Linked DNA regions of Homo sapiens: region 1 is linked to region 2. A link means that fine-mapping ties the variant in region 2 to the expression of a gene that starts in the linked region. Tissue or cell type: whole blood. Region 2 holds a variant in brackets; the other region holds the start of a gene. All regions are shown on one strand. Distances are between the middles of the regions.

Region 1 (5,379 bases), 24 kb after region 2:
GGCAGGAATATCGCTTGAACCCAGGAGGCAGAGCTTGCGGTGAGCTGAGATCCTGCCATTGCACTCCAGTCTGGGCAACAAGAAACTTCGTCTCAAAAAAAAAAAAAAAAAAAAGAGAAGCTGCCTAGGGGCCAGCCCAGAAGGGAAAAGCATTACTTCCTCTGCATTCTATGGTTAAAGTAAGTCACAGGGTCAGCCCAGGCGGAAGGGGGAGGGGAGGGAAACAGACACCACCTCTTGATGGGAGAAGCAGCATGAGGTCAATTTACTCCACCCAAGGTCATAGATTCAGATGGAGCTAAGTAGTAAACCCAGGTCTGAACCATCTAATAATATTGACTGCCCTTCCTCCAGGCCTTTGCAGGAGCGTCTACTGGGCCGGAAACCTCCCTCCATCTCCACAGATTGGTTTCACTTCCACTCACCCATCCATCAGGAGATATCACTTCATGCTGGAGCCTCTTCGGAGCTCCAGAGTCCTCCTCTGTGTTCCCAGGGCAGCCTCTACGTCCCTGACCACACTGTACTGTCACTGCTGCTTACCCATGGACCTCTCCTGTTAGAACTCAAGGACGAGTCCAGCAAAGGACATGTTCTTTCCAGACCACCCCAGAGTGTCTCCCATTTAAACAATGGGTTTGTCATGGACCCTGATGGGGTGAGGTTGGTTGTGGGGGTCGGTGTTCAGGATGTTTCTTTGGAAGTTCCCTTAAGAGTAACCCCTGGGCAAGGAACTGGAAGGAAGCAGGAGGGAGACCCTGAGCAGGACACAGGTCTTGTGACAGCTTTGACTGTCTTCATGGGGAGTCCTGGGGCTAAAATACCCCATCAGCACTGTCCCCAGTCAGGCAGAGATGGCCAAGCTTTTATACTTCTGCTGGGATAGTCATTGGGATGTGGGCTATCCCAGGAGGGACATGACAGAGGGCAAGGCTGCTCTCTGAGCAGGGGCAGTTCCTGGAGAAGCCGATGGCTGGGGGACTGTCTGCTGACAGCACCACCTGAAGCCGGGGAAATATTCCCATTCTCCTAACAGGGCAGAACAGTGGGGGGCAGTCCTTGAGGGCTGCACAGAGGAAGTGGTTTGCCAGTTGTGACCTATGGCTGGAGGGAGGAGGGCAGGAACAGCAGAGTGAGGGAGGGTTTTACCCACATCCATGCGTGGGGGAGTGGGGAGTTCTGGACCAGGTCCCCAAGGGATGTCATTTGACTGGATTAATACTCAGGGACAGAATCCCCATCTCCTCTGTGCCAGGTGCTGTGCCATGTACTGGAGAACCGGATAGCACCTGGATAGGGGTCAGGGCTCCAGGGAACTCCACTCCCTCCTAATGGCCCTCCCCTCCACCCCATGACCCACTGTCTACACTGCTGCCAGACTGATCTTTCCAAAAGGCAAATCATACATGTGACTCCTCTGCTTAAAACACAGAATAAAATCCTAGCTCCTTGTCCTGGCCTGCCAGGCCCTCTGATCTTCCCCGCCCTCCTCACCTCATCTCCTAAGCTCTCCTCAAGACCAGCCATGCCAAGTAGGTCTTCCTCAAGGCTTTGGCAGTCACTGTTGCCAAGGGGGTAGGGAACTATGCCTGGAACTATTTTTCCCTAGGTGATGTTCACAGAGATGCTTCCTTTGCATCCATCAGGTCTCAGCTCAATGTCACCTCCTCCAGGAAGGCTTCTCTGATTACTCTTTTGGTGCATTCCTTTTTTCTTTTTTTATGTTTACTCAACAAACATTTATCTTAACTATGTCCCATGCACTGTTCTAGGCAGTGCAGGTAACGGGGTGTTAAGCGAGCCAGGCCCTGTCCTCTTGGAGCTTACAGTCTAATGGGAAAGACAATCAGTACACAAGTAAAAATAAAAAATAAAAAAATGTCGGCCTGACTCGGGGGCTCACGCCTGTAATGCCAGCACTTTGGGAGGCCAAGGTGGGCGGATCACCTGAGGTCAGGAGTTCGAGACCAGCCTGGCCAACATGGCGAAACCCCGTCTCTACTAACAATAAAAAAATCAGTCAGGCGTGATGGGGGGCGCTTGTAATCCCAGCTACTCAGGAGGCTGAGGTAGGAGAATTGCTTGAACCTGGGAGGAGAGGTTGCAGTGAGCCCCGAGATCGCGCCACTGCACTCCAGCCTGGGTGGCAGAGCGAGACCCCGTCTCAAAAAAAAAAAAACCAACAAAAAAACCCCCATGATTTCAGAGCGTCTGAAGTGCTATGAAAAAACAAGAGCGAGGAAAGGCGACAGAGAGGGCCTAGGCTGGAAATCTCGGAGCCGCTCTGGAGACCGGCCCTGGGCGTAGAGTGGGGAGCAGAGGCCAGAGGGGCCGTGTGGAGCGGGTTGGGGGCGGCAAGGGTCACCTGAGCCCCACATCGGAGTTTGGGGAGAGCACCCGGCCGGCCCTAGAGCCCTCTGGTCTGGCCGCCCCGGAGGCGCGCTCGCTCGCCGGAAAGGCACGCGCGGGAGTCAGCCAGGTGCGGCTGCCGCGGGGAGCCGCCCTCCGGGCCGCGCTTCCTGGGGGGCGGGTCTCACCGCTGTCCCGCCCCTGGGCCGCCGATAAATGCGCCGAGCCGGCCGGCACCGCGGGTTCGGAGCGCGAAGCCGCCGCTGGGTCCTCGGCGCGCCCCGCGTCTGCGCTTGCTGCCGCGCCCCGGTCGGCGCGCTGGGAGTTCCAGCCATGCTCTTCTGGCACACGCAGCCCGAGCACTACAACCAGCACAACTCCGGCAGCTACCTGCGGTAAGGGCCGCGCGCGGTCCCCGCGGGTCTCGGGCCGGGCCGGCGGGCCGGGCGCCGTTGGACGTCCAGGGGCGGAGAGGGGGCGCCCCTGCTGGGCCCTGGCCTCCCCGCTGTCCGCCCTCTGGGGACTGAGAGACCCGCCCAGCGTCCCGCCTAGGGACTGACAGATGGACGCCGGCGGGACCCGACGTGCGGAGTTGGGGGCCCGCTGGGGAGGCGAGCGCGCAGAGCCCTATGTCTGCGAGGGCTCCTCCCAGGCGGCAGAGAGGGTGCAGGGCGCGCACCTGCCGGCCCGCCGCCTCCCCTGGCCCGTCCGCCCCCTGCGGCCCTCCTCTCCCCCGCGTATCGGAGAAGCAGAGGAAACTTCCTGCCAGCAGCCTGGTGCCCGGCCCGGGGAAGTTCGTCCCCTGCTCTTTGCCCGTCTCCGCCGGGGCCCCTCTCCCAGCCTCGCGCCCTCTGCAGTGCCCTTCCTTGGACGAGGGGCGGGCGGCGGGCTCGGAGGGGCAGGCCGCCCCACTTCCCGCGATGGTCTTGCGCGTGTTCGCCCGAGGCCCGCGTGGTTATTGCCCTTGATGGAAATCTTTCTTCTGCTGGAGGGATTTGAGTAGTGCCCTTCAGAGGGGAAAGTAAGTCCTGCGTGTTTTGCACAGTTCCCCACAGGCCCCTCTTAGCAGTAGGACCCCGTGTGCTCTCGCTCCCGGAGGATTGTTTTTCCCTGTTCTGCTGCTGGCCGGGACTAATGGGCAGTCATTTCACTTTGTGAACTCGCCTGAACCAGCTTTAGCCTGTCCTTATTTCCATCTTAGTCACAGTTTATGAAATGTGCCTAATTTAACCCAAAGGGCATTTGATATGGGCTCAAGGAAAATGAATGATGAGGCCGAAGGAGTCACAGGCATTGACAGCCCCCATACTAGAGCTACCTTTAAGTGCTAGTTTTGGCCCCAAGAAGTTCCCACTTAGATCTTAAAACGTTATTTGTAATTCCTGGCTGCTGGTAGGTATTTGTCCTCCCTGAAGACATCCCCTTTTCCTGGAGGCGGGGGAATGATTGGGTTTAGTGGATGTATCTGCTGTTTTTATTCATGGGCCAAAGTAGTCGGAGATGGCAAAGGTCTAGAGCCTTAAAGGCTGACAGCCACCCGGCAGACCACGGTGATGTCACCAGAGGGAAGCCCAGGAGGAGATGTTAATCACCCAGAGATTAAGTGTCCATTCACTTGCAAGAAATGCTACAATGGAATACATTTTTACTGTACTGAAGTTTTAGTTGTAGCTTTGGCTAAGTTTTAGTTTGCTGCCATTAAGTATGTTGCCATATCTTAACAATGAGTTTGAAGGTGACCCTGAGTTGAAGGTGAGTGTACTTGAAACTTCCTAGATACCTACAATGTCCTCACCCCGTTAGGGAACAATTCTCCCTTGCCTGGGAGGTACAGTTCTGACATCTGCTACCGAGATGGAAGTTTGTCTGGAGTAGCTCAGGTACCTTTTAGGATTTGGTGAAAGGAGGAGGGTGAGCGTTGGGAGTGGGTGGTGCTGTAAAGCCATATTGGCTTCTGGGGTCATCGGGGGACCATGGATAAAGAAGTCCTTGCCCTTTTTTATTTCACTTCTTGGAAGCTGGGAGTTTTGCCCTCAGTGAGGGCCAAGGTGGCGGTTTGTGCATATGCCCCTGGTCCCCTGACTCTAGAGGGAGGGTCTGGTCCTTTTCCTTGCGTTTTTTGTATTTTATTTTTGGTCGTCTCCTCACTTGGCAGAACTTCTGCAAGCTGTCTGACCTCACCAGGGTAGAGGCCTTTACTCCCTTCCCCCTTTCTGTTTGATGTTCTCGTGACTTTTATTCCTTGGCAAATAAAGATGCCAGGCTTGAAACAAGTTACTGTTGAGGGATGGTTCTTAACTTCCTCTGCCCACCCGCCCCTGTTTAAAAAATTTAAAGGCAGCAGTCCGTGGATTATTAACTTGACATGGTCTGGGCAAACATGAAATTATGCAATCCTCAGTGTTCCTAGAGAACCACCCGGGCTGGGAGTGTGCCCTGCTCTGACAAAAGGAAGACGCCCTGTGGGGGAAAGTCGAGACGGCCTTGCACCCTTATTTTTCGGCAGTGGATGGTGACGGGGGAGGCCCACACAGGGCAGGTTTTCCAGGTGTGTGCTCAATGCCAGGCTTTTTCTTCTCAAAATTGATGAGATGTTGATGGGGTGTGTGCCGGGTTTGTGTTGTAGAGACGCTTGTTTATGATGTGCGAGGAACAGATTGTACCAGTGACTCTGTTTATACAGACAAGTGGGGTCAGCTAATTGGATTCCTAGTCAGGGACCCACGAAGGGAAGAGGGTTATCAAGATAAGAGCACTGGCACTTATTTGGCACTTGTTTATGTGCTGCTCATAATTTAGAGACCTTACACAAGCCTTGCCTGCCTGTAGGTCATTCATGTTCTCAAGGAATTCTTTGTCCCTTGTAAGGGCATTTTTAAAATGCTGGGTTTTTTGTTTCTTTCTTTTTCCTTTTTTTTTTTTTTAGAGATGGTGGGGTCTCACTATGGTGCCCAGGCTGATCTCAAACCCCTGGCTTCAAGCAGTCTTCTCACCTCAGCCTCCCAAAGTACTGGGATTTCAGGCATGAGC
Region 2 (5,379 bases):
CCAGAAGTAAATCCCATTTAGTCATAGTGTTCCTTTAATATGCTGTTGAATTTGGTGTACCAGAATTTTGTTGAGGAATTTTGGATCAATATTGATAAGCAATATTTGTCTGAAGTTTTATTTTCTTGCAGTGTCTTTGATGTCATGGTAATGTTGGCCTTACAGAATGAGTTTGAAAATGTTCCTTTCTCTTCAATTTTTTGTAAGAGTTTGAGAAGAAGTGGTGTTAGTTCTTCTTTAAATGTCTGGTAGAATTCACCAGTGAAGCTATCTGGTCCTAGGCTTTTCTTTGTTGAGGGGTTTTTGGTTCTGAATCCAATCTCCCTCCTACTGATAGGTCTTTTCAGAGTTTCTGTGTCTTCATCAACTCTTGGTATGTTGTGTGTTTCTATGAGTTTGTCCACTTCATCTGGGTTATGTAATATTTTTGGCATGCAGTTATTCTAGTACTCTTTTTTTTTTTTTTTTTGAGACAGGGTCTCACTCTGTCGCCCAGACTGGAGTACAGTGGTGCGATCTTGGCTCACTGCAACCTCCGCCTCCCAGGATCAAGCGATTCTCCTGCCTTAATTTCCCGAATAGCTGGGATTACAGGTGCACACCACCACACCGGGCTAATCTTTGTATTTTTAGTAGAGACGGGGTTTCACTATTTGTCCAGGCTAGTCTTGAACTCCTGACCTCAAATGATCCAACCCCCTCAGCTTCTCAAACTGCTGGGATTATAGGGGTGAGCCACGGTGCCTAGCCCTCTAGTACTCTCTTATAATTTTTTTTCTGTAAAGTTGAATGGCCCTTCTTTCATTCTGATATTAGTTATTTTACATTTCTCTTTTTTTCTTAAGTCTACTTAGTTAAAGGTTTGTTTTCAATTTTGTTGATCTTTTCAAAGAGCCAGCTCTTGGTTTTGTTGATTTTCTGTATTGTTTTTCTATTCTCTATTTTATTTATCTTTGCTTTAATCGTTATCCTTTCTATCCTTCTGCTAGGTTTGGGATATTTTTCTAGTTCCTTAAGGCGTAACATTAGGTTGTTGATTTCAAATCTTTCTTCTTTTTTAACGTGTTTACAGCTATGAATTATCTTAGCGCTCTTTATACTGCATCCCATAAGTATTAGTTTGTGTTTTTATTTTTTATTTTTTGCTGTTGTCTCAGGCTTACTGAAAATATTATAACATTGCAGAAAGAGTCAAAACAGTTCCACGTGGCATTTTAAAATTCATCCCAACTTCAGGCTGAGTGACCTGCAGGTTGGATAGACTGCCAATGTCCAAAAGCTTTAGCATTTCCCCAGTGTGAGAATTTACTTCAGTGACCTCCTAATCCAGGACTGAGACCTCAGGAACAGAATTATCTCTCCTTTTTCTCTCCTCCTCCTAAAATGTGATGGAGATATTTCTTACTGGGACCCTCTGAATCCTCTGCATCAGATGTGTGACATAGCCTGCTATCTTGTTGCAGGACTTCCTACTGGAGATAATAGCAATCTCCACACACACACACACACACACACACACACACGTTCATGTGGAAGTTGTTGCCCAGGCTCATGTAGTGCTTTTCTGTGATGACCCAGGCCACCTTATTCACGGCTTTGGTGTGAACATGACTCATCTTGGTGGGTCCTTGGTGAAAGAGGAAACCTGTTGTTGTTGTTTTGTTTTGTTTTTTTTTATGGTAGCAACGGCCTTTATTGGCTGCAGCAGGAAGTGGAAGAGGGGATATGGTGTCTGCAGATTAGATCACTGCCCTCCAAAAAAGCAGAAACCTGTTTTCATTTTAATTTGTCTAAAGATATTTTCTATTTTCCCTTGTGATTTCTTCTTTGACCCATTGGTTGTTTAAGAGTGTGTTGTTTAATTTCCACATATTTGTGGATTTTCAAATTTTCCTCCTGCTATTGGTTTCTAGTTTCATTCCAATGTGATCAGAAAAGACACTATGCATAATTTTAATCTTCTAAAATGTATTAAGACTTATTTTGTGCCCTAACATATGATCTCTTCTGGATAATTTTCTTTCTGTCTTTCTTTCTCTTTCTTTCTTTTTTTTCTTTCTTTCTTTCTCTCTCTCTCTTTCTTCCTCTCTCTTTCTTTCTTTCCTTCCTTCCTTCTTTCCTTCCTTTCTTTCTTTTTTCCTTTATTTCTTTCTTTGTTTCTTTCTTTCTCTCTTTTCTTTCTTTCTTCTCTTTCTTGCTCTCTTTCCTTTCCTTTCCTCTTACCCCCCCTCCCTCCCTCCTTTCCTTCCTTCCTTTCCTCCCTCCCTCTTTGCCTCCCTCCCTCCTTCCTTCTTTCCTGCCTTCCTCTCTCTCTCTCTTTCTCTCTCTCTCTCTCTATTTCTTTTTTTTTGAGAAAGGATCTTGCTCTGTTGCCCAGGCTGAAATGCAGTGGCATGATCATGGCTCGCTGTAACCTTGACCTCCCGGGGTTAAGTAATTCTTCCTCTTTAGCCTTCTAGGTAGCTGGGACTACAGGCATTTGCCACCACCACACCTGGCTAATTTTTTAAATTTCTTTTTGTGGAGATGGGGTCTCTCTATGTTGCCCAAGCTGGCCTTGAACTCCTGGGCTCAAGTGATCCTCCCACCTCAGCCTGCCAAAGTTCTGGGATTACAGGTGTGAGCCACCCTCCCTGGCCTTTGTGCACTTGAGAAAATTGTGTATTGTGATGTTGCTGGGTAGATGTTCTGTATATATCTTTTAGGTCAAACTTGTCTAAAGCATTGTTCGAATCCCCTATTTTCTTATTGATCTTCTGTCTGGTTGTTCTATCCATTATTGAAAATTGGGTTTTAAAGTCTTCTACTATTATCATAGAGCTATTTCTGTCTTTAATTCAGTTGATACGTCATATAATGAGGAACTCTGATGTGTGGTGCATATATGTTTATAATTGTTATGTCTTCCTGGTGAATTCACCCTTTTATCATTAAAATCGATTTTGTCTGATATTAACATAGTCATCCCTGCTTTGTTTATTACTATTTGCTTGGAATATCCTTTTCTATCCTTTCACGTTTAACCAAT[G/A]TGTATCCTTAACCCTAAAGTGAGTCTCTTATGCTGTAACATAGAAACACTGTTTTTTAAAGCCATTCTGCCAATCTATGTCTTATTATTGGGAAGTTTAATTCATTCACATTTAAAGTAATTACCCACAGGGAAGAATTTACTATTGGTATTTTGTTATTTATTTTCTGTATGTCTTGAAGAATTTTTGTACATCATTTCCTCCATTACTTCCTTTCTTTGTGTTTAGTTGATTTTTTGTTGTGAGATGTTTTGATTCCTTTCTTATTTTCTTTTGTGTATATTATATATGTATTTCCTTTGTGGTTACCATGAGGATTGCATATAATATCCCAAAGCTATAACAATGTATTTTGAACTGCTATAACTTCACTTGAATTTCAAACAAAAACCCTTCCTTTACAGCCATGCCCCCTCCACTTTACATTATTGATGTCACAGATTATATCTTTATATATTGTGTACCCATTAACATATATTTATAATTATATCTTATGCTTTTGTACTTAAATTACATAGAACAATAAAATGTGAAGTTCTAAAATAAAATCGCAGTAATACTGGTTTTACATTTGCCCATTTATTTACCTTTACCAGAGAACTATATACTTTCAAAGAGCTTTTAAGTTACTATCTGGTGTTTTTTCATTTTAACTTCAAGGATTCCCTTTAGCTATTTTTGTAGGGAAGTCTAGTGATAATAACTTCTCCCAACTTTGCTTATCTAAAAATGTTGTAATTTTTCCCTCATCTTTGAAGGATGGTTTTGCCAGATATAGAATTCTCCACTGGCAGGTTTTATTCTTCCAGTACTTTAAACATATTATCCCATTGCCTTCTGGCCTGCATGGTTTCTGCTGAGAAATTTGTTGGTAATATTATTGAGGACCGCTTGTGCTTGATGAGTTGCATTTCTCTTGGAGATCTGAAGATACCTTCTTTGTCTTTGGCTTTTTGACAGTTTGATTATAACACATCTTGGTGGGGGTCTCTTTAGATTTATCCAGTTGAAGTTCATTAAACTTCTTGAATGTGTATATTCATGTCTCAAATATGGGAAATTTGGGGTCATATCATTTCTTAAAATCTCTCTGACCCTTTTTCTCTCTTTTTTTCTGTGACTTTCATAGTGATTGTATTGGGCCACCTGATGGTGTCCCACAAGTTTCATAGGCTTTGATCACTTTTTCCTGCACTCTTTTTTCTTTCTTGCCCATCAGACTCAAGAATTTCAAATGACCTGTCTTCAAGTTTCTGATTATTTTTTTCTGCCTTTTCGAATCTGTTATTGAATACGGGCAGTAAAATTTTCAATTCAGTTATTGTATTTTTCAGTGTCAGCATTTCTGTTTGGTTCTTTTTATGTATACATAATTTCTATCTCTTTGTTGATATTCTTATTTTGTTTATATATGATTTTCCTGCCTTCTTTTAGTTCTTTGTCCATGTTTGCCATTAGTTCTTTGAACATATATAAAGCAATTGTTTTAAAGACTTTGTGCAATAAGGTTGATGTCTGTGTTTATGAAGATTTATTTTGGTCCTTTGAATTAGCCATGTTTTGCTATTTGTTTGTACACTTTGTGATCCTTTGTTAAAAATTGGGCATTTGACAAAACAGCCACCTTTCCCAGTCTTTGCAGACTTGTCTCATGCAGACCACTAATCAGCCAGGCATGAAGGCATAAGGTGTTCCCAGGTCTTTTCATAGGTGTAACCGTAGCACACTAGTGCCTCAAACTCCTGGGCTCAGACAGTCCTCCTGCCTCAGCTTTCTGAGTAGCTGGGACTACAGGCATGTACCACCTACCTTTAAACGTCTTAATTTCCCCTTAGATTCTCCCCCTGCTTCCTCTCAAGGTCTTAGGTATTCTATTGTATTCCTTAATCAGTAATTTCTTACCTCAGGGGTCTGCAGGTCAGTTTTCAGAAGCTATGACCATTGCTTCCCACAGGTTCTTCCAGCTCGAGATCTGAGCATTGTCACTTTTGGCTGTCTGAGCTCCAAGTTAGACAATTACAGAGACCAATCCCTCAGGCAGCCCCTGGACAGCCTAGAATGTGGTGTACTTGATTGGTTCTGCTCCCTCTGACTTATGGAAAGAAGCTGGGAACCAGGACATTGCCTCCCCCAAAGTGCACCAGCTGGGGAGGGGATGGAGCATAGGCAAGTCAAAACATCATGAAATCTTGTTTGCTATAAATCTTGAGTGATTTCCAGAGCTTCCATAAAGGTATTCTAACCAGTCTCCAGTTGTTTATTTAATGTTTCCATGGGGAATACTGGCCAGGATATTCTTGGTCTACCATCTTACTGATGTCTGTCTTGCATCCATTATTTTGTTGTCGTT

Evidence for each region.
Region 1: TFCP2L1 starts here. The variant in region 2 is fine-mapped to the expression of TFCP2L1 in whole blood (INTERVAL, PIP above 0.99).

What each region holds. Positions count from the first base shown.
Region 1 is chr2:121,282,413-121,287,791 of GRCh38, reverse strand. TFCP2L1 (transcription factor CP2 like 1) reads left to right here and starts at 2,590. Exons shown (of 15, transcript NM_014553.3): 1 at 2,590-2,744. The coding sequence starts at 2,683. RefSeq lists a silencer at 2,425-2,564.
Region 2 is chr2:121,306,233-121,311,611 of GRCh38, reverse strand. It overlaps the pseudogene RPS17P7. Among named protein-coding and RNA genes, the nearest start is that of TFCP2L1, 24 kb to the right of the region's middle. The variant G/A (reference allele first, on the strand shown) is at 3,029.